2 linked regions of the Homo sapiens genome follow. The gene in region 2 interacts genetically with the main gene of each other region. Each region holds a gene or a part of one and is shown on either strand. Other genes may lie near its edges.

What was found.
Region 1: changes in TIMM9 (region 2) and MICOS10-NBL1 together harm fitness less than expected from each alone (positive genetic interaction), as found in Homo sapiens cells (one large-scale study listed by BioGRID).

Annotation. Positions count from the first base shown.
Region 1 is NC_000001.11:19,648,979-19,652,478, reverse strand, and holds part of MICOS10-NBL1 (neuroblastoma suppressor of tumorigenicity 1 isoform a precursor), read right to left. Parts: intron 1-3,500. UniProt on the Homo sapiens protein: Possible candidate as a tumor suppressor gene of neuroblastoma. May play an important role in preventing cells from entering the final stage (G1/S) of the transformation process.
Region 2 is NC_000014.9:58,410,532-58,414,031, reverse strand, and holds part of TIMM9 (mitochondrial import inner membrane translocase subunit Tim9), read left to right. Parts: intron 1-2,060; 5' UTR 2,061-2,086; coding exon 2,087-2,125; intron 2,126-3,093; coding exon 3,094-3,189; intron 3,190-3,500. UniProt on the Homo sapiens protein: Mitochondrial intermembrane chaperone that participates in the import and insertion of multi-pass transmembrane proteins into the mitochondrial inner membrane.

The sequences.
Region 1 (3,500 bases), on a different chromosome or scaffold from region 2:
GGACAGGCTGCCCCCCCGCCGCCTCCCAAATGAGTTCCTGTCACGATCCAGGCCCTCACCCACGCATTTCCGGTCTTGCTGACAAAGCCCATGTTTCCAGTACAACCACATCCTAACAAAATAGAATGGATTCCTCCCTAACTGGCAACCCAGTGAATTTTTCAACAAGCCTGGCATGCAGGCGGCTTCCTCACTCCTGAGTCAGGTCTGCCCACAGCACACCTGAAGGGTCCTGGAGGTCCATTTAAGGCCAGGGCTCCCTGGGCTGGACTGGCCCCCTAGACCCTTAGGAGAGGTCCAGGGACTCTTGTCCTCCTATATCTGACCCCATCTTGCTTCCTCAGGAACAACAGGTCACAGGGGGCCAGGGAGGTGACTGGGGCAGAAAGTGATGTGGATTTGGAATTGAGACTGGGGTTGTAATGCAAGTAGCCTGGGCCAGGCATGGTGGCTCACACCTGTAATTCTAGCACTTTGGGAGGCCAAAGCGGGAGGACCACTTGAACTCAGGAGTCCAAGACTAGCCTGGGAAGCAAAGTGAGACTTGGTCTCAAAATAAAATAAAATAAAATAAAATATTTTTTTATTATCACACTGTGATAACACATTTTTTATTATCACATTATGCATTGTGATGTGCACCTGTAGTCCAGCTATGTGGGAAGCTGAGGCGGGAGGATGGCTTGAGACCAGGCTTGGGGCTGCAGTGAGCCATGATTGCGTCCCTGCACTCCAGACTGGGTGACAGAGCAAGAACCTGTCAAAAAGGAAAGGGAAAAAAAGGACAGGAAAGAAAAGAGGGAGGGAGGCAGGGAGGGAGGGACAGAGGGAGGGAGGGAGGCTGGGGTGAGCACTTGGAGTTGGAATTAGGAGAGGTCACAACCGAGGCTGTGGGTCACAACTAGGCTGAAGCCGAGTGTTGAGACTGGGGTTGAGGCTAATGGAGGCTTACTGGGAAATGGGGTAATGGTGACTTTTTGGAAGAGGTTGCAGGCCCAGAGATCAGGAACTGGTTATCAGCGTCAGGCTGGGACAGAGGTTAGGAGAAATGAGACGAACTGAGGCAGAAGGCCCCCTCCTTACCTTCCACCCTTTCCAGTGCACAGCTGAGGTTATCACAGGGCCAGCTGTGTCCACAGAGGGGTGCTATAACCCAACCCACCAGGCCCTAGCAGGCTCTCCGCAGGGCGCTGGGGCCTCGGCCTCCCCGGGCCAGCAGCGTGGAGCTCCAGCATTTTCCCCGGGCTCCCCCTGGAAGCGTGGACCCTGGAGTCCCCAGTGTTTGAACTGCAGCCCCTCCCCTTAGGAGCTGTGTGACTCCAGAAATAAGTTCACTCCTCAGAAACTGCCTTTCTCAACCCTAACATGGGAAGCATTGCACCTTCCCTGGAGAAGAATTGGGAGGAGTAAATGAAGGTACTCAGCACCTAGGAGGCACCCACTAAGGTCAGCTCTCTTCCCCCCAGGGGATCATGGGAAAGGCTGGGCCAGCATCAGAGCCAAGGCTGGGCTGGAACAGGAGGCAGCGAGGATGCCAGATGAAGTCTCTCCCACACACGGCTGTCATCCAGACACACCTGCCTCCGCCCACCCTCCTGCCCAGCCCCGAAGAGCCCAGGCTGCCCCCACCGGTGGGGTGGGCTCTTGGCTAGCAGGTTTTCTTTTTTTGTTGGTTTATGCTTTTTTGTTGGTTTACGCTTTTTTGTTTTTTCAAGCAGCAACTAATCTATTTTTTTTTTTTAAGCAGCGATCGTACTTTCCTTCCTGAGCCTTGAGAGCCTCACCCAGATTCTCAACCCTTCCTCCCGCCCTGAAGGTCACACAGCAAGTCATGGGACTCCCCAAAAGCGAGGGCGGGAAGGAAAGTTGGAGATCTCCCAGCCAAGTCTCCCTGCTCTGCAAGGGGCTGTCCCAAGGCCCCCAGCAAGTCAGGCAAAGCAATGCCCTGCCCTGGGCCGTTCAGGGCCCTGCAGTTCCACACTCACTCACTTCTAGGAGGGTGGGGAGAAAGGCAAGGGTGAGGGCAGGGAGCTGGGGGCACAGACCCTATGCCCACTCAGACACTCCCCTGAGGGGAGGTCCAGGGATGTGGGTAAATAGGGGGCAGTTGTTTTGAGTTGGCACAGTCAGAGATGGCTCTCAGGAGGGAAGCAGAGGTTCTGAATTCTGAACTAAATATAAGAGCGCAACTATAGTCATGCGTCAGTTAGCCATGGGGATGCACTCTGAGAAATGTGCCATTAGGTGATAGAGTGAACTCAAACCTGAATAGTCTAGGCTATTACAAACCTAGGCTATATGGCATAGCCCATTGCTCCTAGGCTACAAATCTGGACCACATGTGACTGTACTAAATACTGTAGGTCACTGTAACACACACGGAGGCTGAGGCAGGAGAATGGCGTGAACCCGGGAGGCGGAGCTTGCAGTGAGCCGAGATCACGCCACTGCACTCCAGCCTGGGCGACAAAGCGAGACTCTGTCTCAAAGAAAAGAAAAGAAAAGAAAACGTAAAGTAGGCTAAGCATGGTGGCTCACACCTGTAATCCCAGCACTTTGGGAGGCCAAGGTGAGAGAATTGCTTGAGCTCAGGAATTCAAGACCAGCCTGGGCAACATAAGACGATCCCATCTCTACAAAAATTTAAAAACTAGCCAGGTGTGGTGGTGCATGCCTGTGGTCCCAGCTACTTGGGAGGCTGAGGTGAGAGGATCACTCGGTCCTGGGAGGTTGAGGCTGCAGTGAGCCAGGATCATGCCACTACACAATCATGAAAGAAAGAAAAGGTGTAGTAAAAATACAGTATTATAATTCTATGGGAGGCCAGGCGCAGTGGCTCACGCCTGTAATCCCAGCATTTTGGGAGATCGAGGTGGCAGATCACTTGAGGTCAGGAGTTCGAGACCAGCCTGGCCAACATGGCGAAACCCCGTCTCTACTAAAAATACAAAAACTAGCCGGGTGTGGTGGCACATGCCTGTAGTCCCAGCTACTCAGGAGGCTGAGGCAGGAGAATCACTTGAACCCGGGAGGCAGAGGTTGCAGTGAGCCAAGATTGCACCACTGCACTCCAGCCTGGGGGACAGAGCGAGACTTCATCTCAAAATAATAATAATAATAATAATAATAATTTTATGGCAGCACCATTGTGTACGTGGTTCATCATTGTGTGGTGTGTGACTGGATATTAATTTATTCTGTCCTATGATAACTGCCTGATCCTATTCTTTCCCCCATTTTTAGATGAAGAAACTGAGGCACAGAGAGGCCAAGAAATCTGCTTGGGCTTACACTGTTAGTAAACAGGAGAACCGGGATTTGAACCTGGAGGGTAGCAGGTTAACCCCCAGCTACCCTTGCAGGTCAAAAGGTTCACCGAAGAGAAAGAAGCAAGAAACGATGGAATCTGGAGTCAGGATGAGGCCTGGAGCTCCCACCACTGCCCCAGCCGACTGCGCCTCTCATTCCTGTTAACACCCTAGCGTTCAGCCACTGCCTGG
Region 2 (3,500 bases):
TTTTTTTTTTTTTTTTTTTTTTTCTGAGACGGAATCTCACTCTGTCACCCAGGCCGGAGTGCAGTGGTGCAATCTCGGCTCACTGCAAGCTCCACCTCCCGGGTTCACGCCATTCTTCTGCCTCAGCCTCCCAAGTAGCTAGGACTCCAGGCGCCCACCACCACGCCCAGCTAATTTTTTGTATTTTTAGTAAAGACGGGGTTTCACTGTGTTAGCCAGGATGGTCTCGATCTCCTGACCTCGTAATCTGCCCGCCTCAGCCTCCCAAAGTGCTGGGATTACAGGCGTGAGCCACCACGCCCAGCCTATACAAATACAAATCTTTTATATGAAATGCTCAACCTTTTTAGAACTAGCCAGGATATAGTAAATAAATAATGTTATACACATTCTTATATCTAGATTAACTGAACCTAAGTCCTACATTTAGGATATGTGAAAATCTCAGGAATTCAGAAAGGCTTTTTTATTTACTTGTCTTCCCTTCCCTGTTGCCGCCACGTTAGATTATAATTAGAAGTCTCTGATTAGTCTCTGTGATTGCCCTTTTTGAACTAGAGAATGTGTAGTAGAATGTATAATTCCTGTAACTTTCTTTTAAAACTCTGAATATCCTTCATGAGGGTTGTCAATTTCTAAGCAAATGGTGTTTGTTAACTGGTGTTTGTTAACTATTAATAGAACCTTTGTATTTACATTGTAAAAGGATCATTAGTAGTAAGGGTCAGAGTTAAATTAGCAACTAATTTTAAGTGTATTTGGAGTGGCTCAGATATATGAATCTACTTTTTCAACAATAGATTTTATTAAATCTAAATATAGGCCAAGTATTTCTGATGAAAATTTAGCATTCAAATTGAGATGTGGTGTAAGTGTAAAATGCTCACCAAAATCAAAGACTTACTACCAGAAAAGGAACGTAAAATGTCTTATTAATACTTTTTATGTGATTGTATGTTGAAATGTTAAAATCTTTGATATTTTTGATGTATTCGACTGAGTATAATAGTAAAAAATTTAAAATAAGCAATTTGGTGACTAGTGGAATAGTTAAGTAATTTTAGGAAAACAGCAAAAATCTCTTGATTTCCTTTATTTTTCTTTTTATTATCATTATTATTATTATTATTTGAGATGGAGTCTCACTTTGTCACCCAGGCTGGAGTGCAGTGGTGTGATCTTGGCTCACTGTAACCTCAACGTCCTGAGTTCAAGCGATTCTCCTGCCTCAGCTTCCCAAGTAGCTGGGACCACAGGCACATGACACCACGTCTGGCCAATTTTTGTATTTTTTGTAGAGATAGGGTTTCACTATGTTGGCCAGGCTGGTTTTGAACTCCTGACCTCAAGTGATCCACATGTCTTGGCCTCCCAAAGTGCTGGGATTACAGGCATGAGCCACCACACCCAGCTTTTTTTAATTATTTTTTTAAGCCCAAACTTCACCATCTTGGTTTCCTTTATAACCCTCCTAGGAATGGGGCTTTAAACAAGCAGCTTAGCAAGGTAGCAGAGCAAACTATCTTAAAACTGGAGATTTTGATAGACAGGGCCTTTGAGTCCCAAACTAGCATTAGAAAATCTAATTCTCTGGCCGGGCACGGCGGCTAACGCCTGTAATCCCAGCACTTTGGGAAGCCGAGGCAGGCGGATCATGAGGTTAAGAGATCGAGACCATCCTTGCCAACATGGTGAAACCCCATCTCTACTAAAAATACAAAAATTAGCTGGGCATGGTGGTGTGTGCCTGTAGTCCTAGCTACTCAGGAGGCTGAGGCAGGAGAATTGCTTGAACCCGGAGGCAGAGGTTGCAGTGAGCCAAGATGGCGCCACTGCGCTCCAGCCTGGTGACAGAGTGAGACTCCGTCTCAAAAAAAAAAAGAAAATCTAATTCTCAACTGTAAGGTTCTATGGTCATTAATGATCTGAGAAATTGGGGGTGGTGGCATACAATTACATACACAGATTTATAAAATACGAGCAGTGATTCCCTAACTCTTCAGTTAGACTAAAAACATTTGTTTATAGATTGACAAACTTGTTTTGAATTTTTAAATTAGGTGACTAATAAAGGTACCAGAAGAATATGGCTGCACAAATACCAGAATCTGATCAGATAAAACAGGTAAGGTATTCTAATTAAGGGGAAAAGATTTTGCAAAAAAATGTAAGGTGCTACTAATGCCACCATGTCAGGCTGGGTGCAGTGGCTCACATCTGTAATCCCAGCACGTTGGGAGGCCCAGGTGGGTGGATCACATGAAGTCAGGAGTTCAAGACCAGCCTGGCCAACATGGTGAAACTCCGTCTCCTAAAAATACAAAAATTAGCTGGGCGTGCTGGCGCACACCTCTAGTCCCAGCTACGTGGGAGGCTGAGGCACAGGAATTGCTTGACCCAGGAAGCAGAGGCTGCAGTGAGCCGAGATCGTGGCATTGCACTCCAGCCTGGGTGACAGAGCAAGACTCCATCTCAAAAAAAAAAACCATGTCAGTGGTTTCACAAAACAATTGTTTCTATTTCATTTCCAAAATGGATATTAAATGTTATAAAGTGTACGTATTTTTCTTGTTCTTTTTTTTTTTGGACACAGTCTCTCTTTGTCGGCCAGGCTGGAGTGCAGTGGCACGATCTTGGTTCACTGCAACCTCCATCTCCCGGGCCCAAGCAATTCTCCTGCCTCAGCCTCCTGAGTAGCTGGGATTACAGGCATGCGCCACCACGCCTGGCTAATTTTTGTATTTTTATTAGAGACAGGGTTTCACCATGTTGGCCAGGCTGGTCTCGAACTCCTGACCTCAGGTAATCCGCCCACCTCGGCCTCCCAAAGTGCTGGGATTACAGGCATGAGCTACCGCACCCGGCCAAGCATATGTATTTTTAATCTGACTGATAATCAAGGAAAAATTAAATATTCAACTAGAAAATAAAACTATTCTGTAGATCATACTGTACCCATTTAAGTTAGCATAATAACTATGATTTCAAGTGTTATAGTATATTTTGTCTAAATATAAAATACCAGTAATTTAAGTTTCAAAGCATCTTTGTTTTAAAAACCAAATACTAAAGAACATTCTGGTTTGTTTGTAGTTTAAGGAATTTCTGGGGACCTACAATAAACTTACAGAGACCTGCTTTTTGGACTGTGTTAAAGACTTCACAACAAGAGAAGTAAAACCTGAAGAGGTATGAAAAGTGTTACTCACTAAAATTCTACAAGCCTTCATAAACACTCTAAGTAGGATCCCCTTAAGCATTTCACTTGTTCCTACTTATTACAGGAATTTAGACTACCTTTTATGTTCCATTGCTTGGAAGAACTGAAGCAGCCACTGAACCACGGCATTGAGTTTAACAGTGCCAAATTTAATGACAGTTACATTGTACCAAGTCAGACCATTTTAGAGAAGATGCCTGCAGCTGCTGAGTTACTGTTTCACAACAAAGATTCTTACTAATTAGCTTTCAGCCAAGATGGCCTACCTAGAGAAACTTGG